2 separate regions of the Homo sapiens genome follow, and region 2 is linked to region 1. Evidence: fine-mapped expression QTL. Tissue or cell type: whole blood. Region 1 holds a variant in brackets; the other region holds the start of a gene. All regions are shown on one strand. Distances are between the middles of the regions.

What was found. PIP is the estimated chance that this variant, and not a neighbour inherited with it, causes the effect.
Region 2: CANX starts here. The variant in region 1 is fine-mapped to the expression of CANX in whole blood (INTERVAL, PIP 0.97).

What each region holds. Positions count from the first base shown.
Region 1 is chr5:179,749,602-179,757,824 of GRCh38, reverse strand. All of the region lies in intron 1 of MAML1 (mastermind like transcriptional coactivator 1), which reads right to left. Among named protein-coding and RNA genes, the nearest start is that of MAML1, 21 kb to the right of the region's middle. RefSeq lists an enhancer at 7,577-8,077. The variant T/C (reference allele first, on the strand shown) is at 4,108.
Region 2 is chr5:179,697,449-179,703,560 of GRCh38, reverse strand. It overlaps CANX (calnexin), which reads right to left and starts at 4,594. Exons shown (of 15, transcript NM_001746.4): 1 at 4,459-4,594. RefSeq lists enhancers at 3,340-3,399, 4,960-5,489 and silencers at 4,210-4,499, 4,540-4,949.

The DNA.
Region 1 (8,223 bases):
AGAAACAAAATTGTTAAATAGATTGATTCTTGTGCTTGGCAGGCAGTCAGTATATTCTCTTCACTAGAGAAAAACCAATTTGGGAAACCAGTGAGGCTCAGAAGGTTGCTTGGTAGACATGAGAACAATGCAGGCGATTGCTAACTGGATGTGTGACGTTAAGACATAACCCATTTAGAACCTGAAGATGGCTGGGTTAGATGATCTAGAGTTCCATTGGCTTTAAAACTCCACATTGCTATACTTCTTTTTTTTTTTGAGAGGAGTCTCACTCTGTCACCCAGGCTGGAGTCCAGTGGCACCATGCCGGCTCACTGCAACCTCCGCCTCCCAGGTTCGAGTGATTCTCCTGCCTCAGCCTCCCGAGTAGCTGGGATGACAGGCACCCGCCACCATGCCTGGCTAATTTTTGTATTTTTAGTAGAGACGGGGTTTCACCATGTTGGTCAGGCTGGTCTTGAACTCCTGACCTCAAGCAGTCTGCCCGCCTTGGCCTCCCAAAGTGCTGGGATTACAGGTGTGAGCAACCTCACTTGACCCACATTGCTATAATTCTAATACCAACTTTTACTCTGAACAAGGAGACGCTCTCAGGGGCTCATAGAGTACTCATTCACCAAAGTCCTCCTATACAGCAGACACTGCTCTGTACAGGCTGTATATAAATTAACAGTAAATAGAGTGCAAGTCATTATTCCAAACTCACAGCCGGGCACAGTGGCTCAGCCTGTAATCCCAGCACTTTGGGAGGCTGCGGGTGGGTGGTTCCTTGAGCTCAGGAGTTCAAGACCAATATGGTAAAAACCCTGTCTCTACTAAAAATACAAAAATTAGCCAGGCGTGGTGGCGCACGCCTGTAATCCCAGCTGGGTTTACTGTAAACCCAGTCCGAGCTGGGTTCTTTGCCTTCCTCCCCAAATCCACACCTTGCTCTCATGCACCCTGTCTCAGTGCATGGGTCAATCCTTGTCCTCTCCGATGACCAGGCATTGAGTTCTGATTCGCCCTTCTAAATCTCTCTCCAGTGAGATACCTCCATACTACGCCCATGTTAGTTCAAGTCATTTTTTATCCTAGATGACAGAAATAACTTCATGCTGACTTCTGTTTCTATTCTCTCTCGGATCTAACACACCCTTTATGATGTTATCCGTGTGACCGCTATAAAACACATATCTGCACCATTTTAAGTGTCTTATTTCCCCATTACTTACAGATAAAGTTCAAACTCCTTAACCTGGCACATAAAGGCCTGTTTGATCTGATTCCCAATTAACTTCTCTGTTGAATTCCCTGCCATTCCCTTGGGGCCCCAACTTAAACTGAATGTCTTTCAGGACTGAGAATATACTTCCAGGCTGGTGACCGCCTAATTTTTTTTTTTTTTTTTGAGACAGAGTCCCGCTCTGTCTGTCGCCCAGGCCCAGGCTGGAGTGCAGTGGCATGATCTCAGCTAACTGCAAGCTCGGCCTCCCAGGTTGACGCCACTCCCCCGCCTCAGCCTCCCGAGCAGCTGGGACCACAGGCGCCCGCCACCACACCCGGCCAATTTTTTGTATTTTTAGTAGAGATGGGGTTTCACCGTGTTAGCCAGGATGGTCTCCATCTCCTGACCTCGTGATCCACCTGCCTCGGCCTCCAAAAGTGCTGGGATTACAGGCATGAGCCACCGCGACCGGCCACCTCCTACTAATGTTTTAAGATTTAGCTCGGGGTGTCCAATCTTTTGGCTTCCCTGGGCCACACTGAAAGAAGAAAAACTGCCAGGCATGGTGGCTCACACCTGTAATCCCAGCACTTTGGGAAGCTGAGGCAGGTGGATCACGAGGTCAGGAGTTCGAGACCAGCCTGGCCAACATGGTGAAACCCTCTCTCTACTAAAAATACAAAAAATTAGCTGGGCGTGGTGGTGGGCTCCTGTAATCTCAGCTACTCGGGAGGCTGAAGGAGGAAAACTGCTTCAACCTGGGAGGTAGAGGTTGCAGTGAGCTGAGATCACGCCATTGCATTCAAGCATGGGTGACAGAATGAGACTCTGTCTTAAAAAAAAAAAAAACTGTCTTGGGCCACAAATAAAATAAGCTAACAATAATAGTAGCTGATGAGCTTAAAAAAAAAAAAAGGTCCATGCATAAATCTCATAGTGTTTTAAGAAAGTTTATGAATTTGTGTTGGGCTGCATTCAAAGCCATCTCGGCCGCAGGCTGGACAAGCTTCATTTAGCTCAAACATCAACTCTGCAGTGTTTTCTCTCCAACCACTTATCCTACTGCTGGTCAAATTCCTTATTCTATCCCTAATGCTCTAACAGTACTTTGTATACAATACTACGTTTCATGTTTGTGGTAAAGCATTTGTGTCGTACTGTACATGTTCACTTTCTCTGCATCTCCTTCCATCCCTGAAGACCAAAGCCTTGCCCTTTTCATCCCCAGGGCCAAGTCTAATGCTCAGCAAATTACAGGTATCCAGTGAAAGTTCACAGTTAACTTTCCCACCTCCCCCACTGCTACAGTCAAGGTCACTCTGTTCTTTGTCTTTTTGTTTCCCAGGCTCGCTCTCTCTGCTCACTAACAGGAAGCAGTACTAGCTCATCACTCAATCTTCACAACAACCTACAGGCTAAGTGCTGTTCGGTTATCCTGAATTTCAAGATAAAGGCACTAAGGCTTGGAGAAGTTATACAACTTGGAATGTGAGTGTGACTGCTGAACCAGGATTTGGACACAGATCTATTTGATTTAAAGCTGTGTCTCAAAGTCCAACTTAGGTGACTCCCTTAAATATGCCTCTCTTTCACCTCAAAACCTTTTAGCGTCTTATCAACTCTTTTCTTTCTCTCTTCTGTAAGAGGGAAGCACTTCTCCTTGCAAAGATTAACTCCCTTCAGCTGCACCTTCTTATTCCCTCTGGACCTGCCTCATCTGAGACTTTCTGTCCTTCAAATTCGTCCCCTCTTCATCTCAAAAATAACTTGAATTTGTTTTGTTCTAGAGCAGTGGTTCTCTAAGTGTGATCCCAGGCCAGTAGCATCAGCATCACCTGGGAATCTATTGGAAATGCAAATTCCCAGGCACTACCCCATACTCACTGAGTCAGAAACTCTAAGCGTGGGGCACAGAAAGTGGTTTTAGTCAGCCCTTCAGGTGATTTTGACAAAGGCCAAGTTTGAGAACCACTGTGGTAGTGGCTTCTTTCAAATATATGCTCAATTTCACATTTTTTTTTTCTTTTTGAGACAGGGTCTTGCTCTATCACTCAGGCTGGAGTGCAGTGGGGTGATCCTAGCTTACTGCAGCCTCCACCTCCCGAGCTCTATCTTCCCACTTCAGTCTCCCCAGTAGCTAGCACTACAGGCATGCGCCACCATACTCAGCTAATTTTTTACTATTCAAATAAATGGGGTCTCATTATGTTTCCCAAGCTGATCTGGAACTCCTGGCCTCAAGCAGCCCTCCTGACTTGGCCTACCAAAAGGCTAGGACTGCAGGCGTGAACCACCATGCCTGCCTTCAATTTCATATTCATTTATTTCTTCTTCTTGAGACAGCGTCTCGCTCTGTTACCCAGGTTGGAGTGCAGTGGCGCAATCTCAGCTAAGTGCAGTCTCCACCTCCCAGGCTCAAGTGATCCTCCCATTGTAGCCTCTTGAGTATCTGAGACTACAGATGGAGCCACCACACCCAGCTAATTTTTGCATTTTTTTAGAGATGGGGTTTCACCATATTACCCAGACTGCTCTCAAACCCCTGGGCTCAAGGGATCCACCCACCTTGACCTCCCAAAGTGCTGAGATTACAGGCGTGAGCCATTGTGCCCAGCCCAATTTTACATTCTAAAACAATCCAAACAAGGCCAGGCAAGGTGGCCCACGCCTGTAATCCCAGCACTTTGGGAGGCCGAGGTGGGTGGATCACTTGAGGTCGGGAGTTCGAGACCAGCTTGACCAACATGGTGAAACGCCATCTCTACTAAAAATAAAAAATTAGCCAGGCACCATGGTGTACACCTGTAGTCCCAGCTAGCTACTTGGGAGACTGAAGCAGGAGAATCACTTGAACCCGGGCCCGGGAGGCGGAGGTTGCAGTGAGCCAGTATCGCACACCA[T/C]TGCACTGCAGCCTGGGCAACAAGGGCGAAACTCTGCCTCAAAAAAAAAAAAAAAAAAAAAAATAATAATAATAATAAAACAACCCAAACAGAAACACTTCTCCCCCCCGATTCATCTCATCCACTACTGTCTTAATCCTTTGCCATTCGCTTTCTTCGAGGCATCAATCACTCGGTGTGTAAGTCCAGAACATGCATGTACTCCTCAAACTCCTTTGACCAAGCTGGACACCCTTATTCCCTTTACAAATAAAACAATTGAATCTACTTGTCCAAATGGATCTGGGAGTTAAGTGCAGCAATTCTATCTTAAGGAGAAAAATTTGAAATATTATCAAACGTAGCACGGAGGGTAATAAAAGTAAAAACGCATTAAAGATGTCAAGATAGACTGGTTTAATTGAGTAGTGAAATCAGAAGGCAGATTGCCAGAGGCCAAAGACAGACAATGTGAATTCAGGACTCCTTCACCCCAGCACGCGCGCGCGCGCGCGCACACACACACACACACACACACACACACACACACACACTAAAAAATAGCATCTAGGATTTAGGTGAGCAAACTGAAATCAGTAATTATAAATACAGTCTTTCCTGTTCCAATGATTGTGAAGTGACAGTGAGATAAGAGTTCCACAGATGGGCCAGGTGCTGTGGTTCACGCCTGTAATCCCAGCACTTTGGGAGGCCAAGACGGGCGGATCACCTGAGGTCAGGAGTTCAAGACCAGCCTGGCCAACATGGTGAAACCCTGTCTCTACTAAAATACAAAAATTAGCTGGGCATGATGGCGGGTGCCTGTAATCCCAGCTACTCAGGAGGCTGAGACTGGAGAATCACTTGAATCTGGAAGATGGTGGTTGCGGTGAGCCGAGATTGCACCACTGCACTCCAGCCTGGGCAGCTGAGTGAGACTCCTTCTCAAAAAAATAAAATAAAATAAATGAGTTCCACAGATGAAAGAGGACATAAAGAGTAATATCCAGAGGCTGAGGCAGGAGAATGGCGTGAACCCGGGAGGCGGAGCTTGTAGTGAGCTGAGATCACGCCACTGCACTCCAGCCTGGGCGACAGAGCGAGATTCCATCTCAAAAAAAAAAAAAAAAAAAAAAAAAAGAGTATCTAATAAAGTGTTAAACTCAACACAGTACAAACGTACTCATTACTCAACAGCACTAATAGAAATATGCCAGCCACAAGTGTGGGCAAAATTTGCTAGTAGCACATAAAAAGAAACAGATGGTGCCAATTTTAATATCATATTTAACCCAATATATATGAACTTTTTAACATATAATCAGTATTTTTTGAGAAAAAATCTTAATATCTTTAATAATGTTATTTAACCATATATATATATATATTTTTTTTTTTTTTTTTTTTTTTTTTGGAGACAGAGTCTAGCTCTGTTGCCAGGCTGGAGTGCAGTGGTGCGATCTCGGCTCACTGCAACCTCCACCTCCCGCGTTCAAGCGATTCTCCTGCCTCAGCCTCTTGAGTGGCTGGGACTACAGGCGTGCGCCACCACACCCAGCTAATTTCTGTATTTTTAGTAGAGAGGGGGTTTCGCTATGTTGGCCAGGATGGTCTTGATCTCTTCACCTCGTGATCCACCCACCTCGGCCTCCCAAAGTGCTGGGATTACAGGTGTGAGCCACCACACTGGGCCTATATTATCTTTTTAACATGTAATCAGTATTTTTTTTTCTTTGAGACAAGGTCTCACTCTATTGCCCACGATGGAGTGCAGTGGTGCAATCACAGCTCACTGCAGCCCTGACCTCCCAGGCTCAGATGATCCTCTCACCTCAGCCTCCCTAGTAGCTGGAACTACAGGTGTACACCACCAAGCCTGGCTAATTTTTTGTAAAGATGGGGTTTTGCCATGCTGCCCAGGCTGGTCTTGAACTCCTGGGCTCAAGTGATCTGCCCAGTTCAGCCTCCCCAAGTGCTGGGATTACAGGCATGAGCTACTGTGCCTGGCCATAATCGGTATTTTTTTCTTTTTTTGAGATGGAGTCTCGCTCTGTCACCCAGGCTGGAGTGCAGTGGCATGATCTTGGCTCACTGCACCCGCTGCCTCCCGGGTTCAAGTGATTCTCCTGCCTCAGCCTCCCGAGTAGCTGGGATTACAGGTGTGCGCCACCATGCCCGGCTAATTTTTGTATTTTTAGTAGAGACGGGCTTTCGCCATGCTGGCCAGGGTGGTCTCGAACTTGACCTCATGATCCGCCCGCCTTGGCCTCCCAAAGTGTTGGGATTACAGGTGACAGCCACTGAAGTGAGTGCACCAAAAAAATCTGTGGTACTAAATTATCAAAATCCAGTGTGCATTTTACACTTTTAGCACAAGTCAAGTTTAACAAGGTGCATTCCACGTGCTTAAGAACCTGACCTGGCTGATGGCTACCCTCATGGACAGTATAACTATAGAAAGTAGCCAGCTGGGCACGGTGGCTCACGCCTGTAATCCCAGCACTTTAGGAGGCCGAGGCGGGTGGATCACCTGAGGTCAGGAGTTTGAGACCAGCCTGACCAATATGGTGAAACCCTGTCTCTACTAAAAATAAAAAATTAGCTACGCATCGTGGTGTGCGCCTGTAGTCCCAGCTACTCGGGAGGCTGAGACAGGAGAATCGCTTGAACCCAGGAGGCAGAGGTTGCAGTGAGCCAAGATCGTGCCACTGCACTCCAGCCTGGTGACAGAGCGAGATTCTGATTTAAAAAAAAGTAGCCTTGAACAACTAAGTTTTCAGGACAGCACTGAAGATAAGGGAAGCCCCCGGGACCTGCCGCCTGGGCCCAGCAGCAGCTCCTTACTGCACAAAGGGCTCCATACAGCAGGCACTGTGGCTCTGTGCCAGCTGCCTCCTTGCTGGGAATCGTCATCCTTGCCCACCTTTCTCTTTCTAGCAAACTCTTCCTCATCATCTCATTCAATTTATCCAATAAGAATCTACTGAGAGCCGTCAGGCCTGTAATCCCAGCACTTTGGGAGTCCCAGGCAAGCGGATTGCTTTGCACTCAGGAGTTCGAGACCAGCCTGGGGAACACGGCAAGACCCCACCTCTACAAAAAATACAATAATTAGCCGGACATGGTGGCTCATACCTGTAATCCCAGCTACTAAGGACACTGAAGCAGGAGAATAGCTTGAGCCCGGGAAGCAGAAGTTGCAGTGAGCCTAGATCGGGCCACTGTACTCCTGCCTGGGAGTCAAGAGACCCTGTCTTAAAACAAAAACAAAAAAATCTATTGAGAGCTGACTGAGCCAGCCACTCTCTGGGCCCTAGGGATACAGCAGAGAAACAAGCAAACAAAACCACAGGCTCTCCTAGAGCCTATATTCTAGCTGAGACGTACTCCCGAGAAAACAAATCACTCAAAGAGAGAGTTGGTGGGACTTATGATTCCAAATAAGGTGCTCAGGAAAGGGCTCACAGAGTAAGCATGTGAAGTCTAAGCAAGAATCCGCAGGAGATAAGAGCACATGGCCACATCCACAGAAGATCATTTGGTAATTTTATTTACTATTTCACTATTTGGGCAGCTATTATAACTACATGTAAATGAATATCAAAGATGATTAATATTAAAGCGGAGAGCAGGTGCACACTGGCAGTGCAAGGAGAGGGCAGCACTGCCCCTGCTGGATGGAGGCTCCAGGAGGTGAGCGCATCAATCTCCAGGTTGTGATCTGACTTCTGCTTCTCCGGGAGCTGACAAAGCCCCTCCTGAGGAAGTCGTGAGCAAGATCTTGGAGTTTTGGGAAACACAGGGCTCAGCATAGTCAGGCACCAGGCAGGGCCAAGGTGGGGACCAGGCGCTGGACCTGCAGTGGAAATACAGTCAGAGCAAGGGGGCTGCCCTGTACTTCCTGTTTCTAAGCTCACCATGGCCTGCCTTCACCTCTCGGTGGGTTGCACTGCTGCAGTATGGCTCAGTTGCCCTCCACGTCTGGTGCAGAGCCGCCACCCTAGGATCACTTCTCGCCATCCTCTGTGGGCCTCCCAGGCCATGTCTACTGTGTTGGGCTCCTGTTTGCTGTATCTGTGTCTTACTCTTTCATGATTTAGTCTTTCAATTTGGTGGAACACATCTTCCAGTAGCTTC
Region 2 (6,112 bases), 53 kb after region 1:
AAGGCTAAGGTAGGAGAAGCCTGAGTCTGACAGGTTGAAGCTAAGTGAGTCGTTGGGCAGGGTGGGGTGGCTCACGCCTGTAATCCTAGCACGTTGGGAGGCTGGTAGACTGCCTGAGCTCAGGAGACCAGCCAGGGAAACATGATGAAACTCCGTTTCTACTAAAATACAAAAAATTAGCCGAGTGTGGTGGCGCACACCTGTAGCCGCAGCTACTCAGGAGGCTGAGGGAGGAGAATCGCTTGAACCTGGGAGGCGGAGGATGCAGTGACCCGAGATGGCGCCACTGCACTCCAGCCTGGGCCACAGAGACTCCACCTCAAAAAAAAAAAAAAGACTCCACCACTCCACCAGGCGCGGTGGCTCACGCCAATAATCCCAGCACATTGGGAGTCCAAGGCAGGCAGATCATCTGAGGTCAGGAATTCGAGACCAGCCTGGCCAACATGGCAAAACCCTGTCTCTACTAAAAATACAAAAATTAGCTGGGCAGGCTGGGCGTGGTGGCTCACACCTGTAATCACAGCACTTTGGGAGGCCGAGGCAGGTGGATCACCTGAGTTCGGGAGTTCAAGACCAGCCTGACCACCACGGAGAAACCCTGTCTCTACTAAAAACACAAAATTAGCTGGGTGTGGTGGCAGATGCCTGTAATCCCAGTTACTCAGGAGGCTGAGGCAGGAGAATAGCTTGAACCCGGGAAGTGGAGTTTGCAGTGTGAGTTGAAATCACGCCACTGCACTGCAGCCTGGCCAACAAGAGTGAGACTGTCTCAAAAAAATAAAAAATAAAGTGAGCTGTAATGGCACCACTGCATTCAAGCCTGGGCAACAGAGTAAGACTGCCTTAAACAAACAAACAAACAAACAGAAAAAGAAGGCAGAGTTTCAGAGATATTTGCAGACCCGTGTTCATAGCAGTACTACTCACAACAGCCAACAGTCAGAAGCAACCCAAGTGTCCATCAATGGATGAATGATTAAACCATATGTGGCATAGGCATACAATGGAATACTATTCAATCTCAAAAAGGAAGGAAATCCCATCACCGGCTATAACATGGATGAACTTTGAAGACAATATGGTAAGTAAAATAAGCAATTCACAAACAGATACCACAAAGTTTTAAAAAAGAAGGAAGGAAGGAAAGGAGGGAGGGAGGGAGGGAAGAAGGGAGAGAAAGAAAGCTGAGCTTAATTTCTGGTCTCCTGGTTGGCATCGTGGCTCGCGCGTGTAATCCCAGAACTCTGGGAGTTGGAGGAAGCAGGATGATCGCTTGAGCTCAGGAGTTCGAGACCAGCCTGGGCAACAAAGCGAAGTATCTATGAAAAATTAGGAAAAAAAAAAAAATTAGCTGAGTGTAGCGTCATCCGCCTGTGGATCCAGCTACTCAGGAGACTGAGGCAGGAAGATCACTTGAACCAATAACAGCAGGAGTTTGAGACTGCAGTGAGCAATAACCACGCCACTGCACTCCAGCCTGATGAAGAGCAAGACCCTGTCTCTAAAAAAATAAGTAAGGCTGAGCGCGGTGGCTCACACCTGTAATCCCAGCACTTTGGGAGGCCGAGGTGGGCGGACTGCCTGAGCTCAGGAGTTCGCAACCAGCCTGGACAACCCGGTGAAACCCCGTCTCTACTAAAATACAAAAAACCGGGCCGGGTGTGGTGGTGGGCACCTGTAGTCCCAGCTACTTGGGAGGCTGAGGCAGGAGAATTGCTTGAACCCAGGAGGCGGAGGTTGCAGTGAGCCAAGATCACACCACTGTACTCCAGCCTGAGAGGGAGACTCCGTCTCAAAAAAAAAAAAAAAAAAAAAAAAAAAGTACATCTGTTGGAGTAACAAAGAATTCAACCAGGACTTTCCTGAAAAGTTTTACCAAAAGCTGTATAGGTTTTAACTGTTTAGGTACTTTTATTATTTCCTAGGAGTTATTATAAACGGCGTATTCTATTTGCACAGTTCATTACACTTTTTTTTTTGTTTTTCCTGAGATGGAGTCTCACTCTGTCACCCAGGCTGGAGTGCAATGGAACCATCTCCGCTCACTGCAACCTCCGCCTTCCAGGTTTAGTGATTCTCCTGCCTCAGCCTCCCGAGTAGCTGGAGGTTAATTTTCTGTATTTTTAGTAGAGACAGGGTTTCACCATTTTGGCGAGGCTGGTTACCAACTCCTGGCCTCAAGTAATCCGCCCACCTCAGCCTCCCAAAGTGCTCGAACTACAGGCGTGAGAGCCACCGTGCCCAGCCAATTCATTACACTTTTTAAAGTAGTTTCATGTTCACCATTTTATCTGCCCCTCCCAATTGCCCCCTAAAGGTGAGGAACCCAGGAGACTTCTCATTCCTATTTTGAAGTTACGGAAACCAAAGTGGGACAAAAGCTACCACACTGGGCCGGGCGCAGTGGCTCACGCCTGTAATCCCAGCATTTTGGGAGGCCGAGGTGGGCGGATCACGAGGTCAGGAGATTGAGACCATCCTGGCTAACACGGTGAAACCCCGTCTCTACTAAAAATACAAAAACAAAATTAGCCGGGCGTGGTGGCGGGCACCTGTAGTCCCAGCTACAAGGGAGGCTGAGGCAGGAGAATGGCGTGAACCCGGGAGGCGGAGCTTGCAGTGAGCCGAGATCGCGCCACTGCACTCCAGCCTGAGTGACAGAGCGAGACTCCGTCTAAAAAAAAAAAAAAAAGGTTACCACACTGGGCACACAATTCAAGTTTCATGAGCCTGCAATTCATGCTCACCAACTGCCACTTCATCCCCTTAAGCTGTCTTCCAGGGCAAAGAGAACTCTAACTAAAAGGATGCAATAGTGTGATTGCCAAAACGGCAGCAACGACTTCTGTCAAAACACTTATCCCTTGTGGCCCTGAGAAGATAATGCGCTAAATGAACTGGGGAGTAAGGATAGTAAGGTGTCGGGGAATGCTGACAGCCATTTGCAGATAAGTCAGAAAATTTCTGTTGTGCAACACTGACCCCCACACACAGTTCACTCGAGCATTCTCATGATCCAGTTACCTGGCTTGTGTGTGCACCCTGGCTGATGCACAGGAGAACTCCCACATAGTCCTTTACCTCTGCTCTAAGTATAATTATACCAAATGTACAACAGTTGATCCATATGGCAGTTGCTTCTATTCATGACCCTCAAACAATGTTGGGAAAAGACTGAGATACAGAATGATTTTAAAGATCAATAAAATTCTTCCCCCTTAAAAAAATCTACTTATTAAAAAATTAAGCAAAATCTTCCATTTCCTAAATCAGAGGTAAAAAGACTTAACTATGGTTAATCTTGTCCTCTCAATCTTTTAATATTAAGCTCAGTTTAACTTCCCTCAACCAGCAATCACTTGTGTCATGCCCAGCGGTAATACACAATGCCCGGTTTCTTCTATCACCATAACTGTGACCTCAGGTCCTGCGAAACAGGACTGAACCAGTTCACTAGGATGGCAGTGTATTGGTCCAAAGGCATTCAGATTATAATAACGTACCGCAATGATCATCGAGCAGTTACTAAATGTCGGACTTCCCTGTCTTATTGTATACATATCTTAATTTAATCCTCACAAATCCATCGGGTATTATTATATCCATTACTTGACAAGAACGGGGGCACAAAGGGTAAGAAAACTGCCGAAGTTCACAGAGCAACCAATGACCAATCAAAGACTCGAGCCAGGGCCTTAGCGTTAACCACTGCACGGTCTATCCCTGAACTATAATCCCAGCACCATCAGTACACTAATCGCATGACCTTGGGCCAGTCATTTCATACCTCCAGGCCTCCGGTGTGGAAAGAGATGCACTTAGATGAGCTTTCGGGGGCTTTCCTGCTTTTAACGCCCTGTCCCTCTCCAACTGGATTACTCGCCTCCAGAATAGGTGCTGTAACTGCTAAGTTTCTCAACCACTGCGTGTTCTCCTTCTGGTACATTCCCCTTTCTCTTCAGGGAACTAGGGTCCAGTCTCCGCTTTGGATTTTCAAATATTAAACTGTAACGCTAGTTGTAAACATTCCCTCTCGGTCTAATACCACCCTTCCCTACTACTAGGGGTACCTAGTAGGCCCGATTCCACCCTATACTTTTACCCAGTTACTCCAGCCCACCTCGCGGCTGCCCAGGCAGCCGGCAAAGAGGCCTAAGAAAGCCCTAGAAGCAAAGCCATAGGAATAAGTCAGCTTTCCCAGAGGTCAAAGAAGGCTGTCGGGCCACCTGCCACGCCTCCCGACCCCGGCGGCGCGGCCTGGGCCCGCAACCCAACCAAAGACGCCCGGATTCGGGCCTCCTCGCTCACGGCGGGCGCGTCGGCCAGGGCCTGGGCCCTCAAGAGCCAGCCCGACCCCTCAGTCGCCGGCCACGCCCGACCCCTCAGCCGCAGAGGCGCTCCCAGCCCCCCGAGGTCCTCACAGGCCCGAGGACGCGCTCAGGTCTCCCCTCTCACCTCTAGCCTCCCGGGGACCGCGGGGGTGCCCGTGCCCCTTCCCGCCCGCACACCTTGCCCCGCGCCGCAGTAAAGAGAGAGGCGGAGGCGGCCCGACCGTCACGTGCCGCAGAACCAAGAGGCCTCGGCCACCGCTGCCGCGCGAGCGAGCCCCACCGCACGAAGCCCGGCCCTGTGCCCGCCCCTGGCCCCTGAGTAGCCACAGCCGGCGCCAAGTCCCGCCCTCCCGCGCAAGCCCCGACATCCGGTTGGCCGGCGTGGGCATCGCTCTACGCACCGTCCCATACGCCCCCTACGGCTATTCTTCGTGGAGTGTGAAGATTGGCCGGGAGTGAGGCAGGAAGTGGCTGTTGGTTGGGCGGGAGGTGAGGGGCGGGCCACGCTGGATCGAGACCGCCGGGCGCGCGCGTCTCGGGGCGGGGCTGGTTTAACAGGCGTTCCCGCGTCGGTTGCTGTGGTGCCTTCGGGGCGTTCCAACCCAACCCCCAGTAGCCCTCACCCGTCTGGTTCCTGGAGCCGAGACTTGGGACGCATCGCGCGCCCTTCGCTGACGGGGCAAACGGCAGCCGGCAAAAGGGGTAGGAGTCCGACGATCGGCCATCAGGAAGGGCCCGTTGCAGCGAACGCGGGCCCCTACGGGCGTGAGCAGAACCCAGCGCGAGCGCCTGGCCGGATTGGCGTGCACTGCTCCGCGCTGTGTGAGCCGGCGCCGCAGTTCCTGCAGAGTCATGGCTCGGCCCAGGAGCCTGCGCAGCCTCGTCGCCCAGCATAACACACAGTCCAGAATAATATAATCCGAGGTTATTTGAACTTTCAATTTATGTTTCCTGAAGTGAGATTAGGTGTCAGGGCAGAGAGATACAGGGATGACAGGACGAGAGAAAGGATGGTGCCATGGAAAGATTTAAGATACGCCACCATTTTAGTAACCCACTCTTAGTACATCTTCAGTTTTCAGTATGCTGAGAACCTCACAAAATGGAAGTGGCCCAGGGTTTTTCTAGACCTTTAGAGATCCTGATCTCTTGTTCTCTATTTGTTTGGACACCCAAAGGCTTGACTACTAGGGTGGAAAACACTAGAATCAGCGAATGTATCACTGATCTGAAAAGCCCTCTTGCCACCGGGAAGGGGAAGAAAGGCAGGGTTTGGTGTTTGCATGAGTTAGTATCATCCAACCCTCAACCCCCAAATTTTTTTTATTTTTATTTTTTTGAGACGAAGTCTTGCTCTGTCGCTCAGGCTGGAGTCTAGTGGTGCGATCTTAGCTCACTACAACCTCCGCCTCCCGGGTTCAAGCGATTCTCCCTCAGCCTCCCGAGTAGCTGGGATTACAGGCGCCCGCCACCACGCCCGGCTAATTTTTGTATTTTAGTAGAGACAGGTTTCACCATGTTGGCCAGGCTGACCTCAGGTGATCGACCTGCCTCTGCCTCCCACAGTGCTGGGATTACAGGCGTGAGCCACGGCGCCCCAACTTCAGCCCCAAAATTTGTGTAGGAGAATTTTGGTTTCCTGTCTACCTGGGGAAGCAGCTATTCAAAGCAGAATAAAATTCTGGATGCTACATGATCCAAATAATGAGCTTAAAATGTAGTTACAGGAAGTACATTTGTGAGCAAAAGAGCTACTCCTGCAAAGGTAAGTGCCAAAA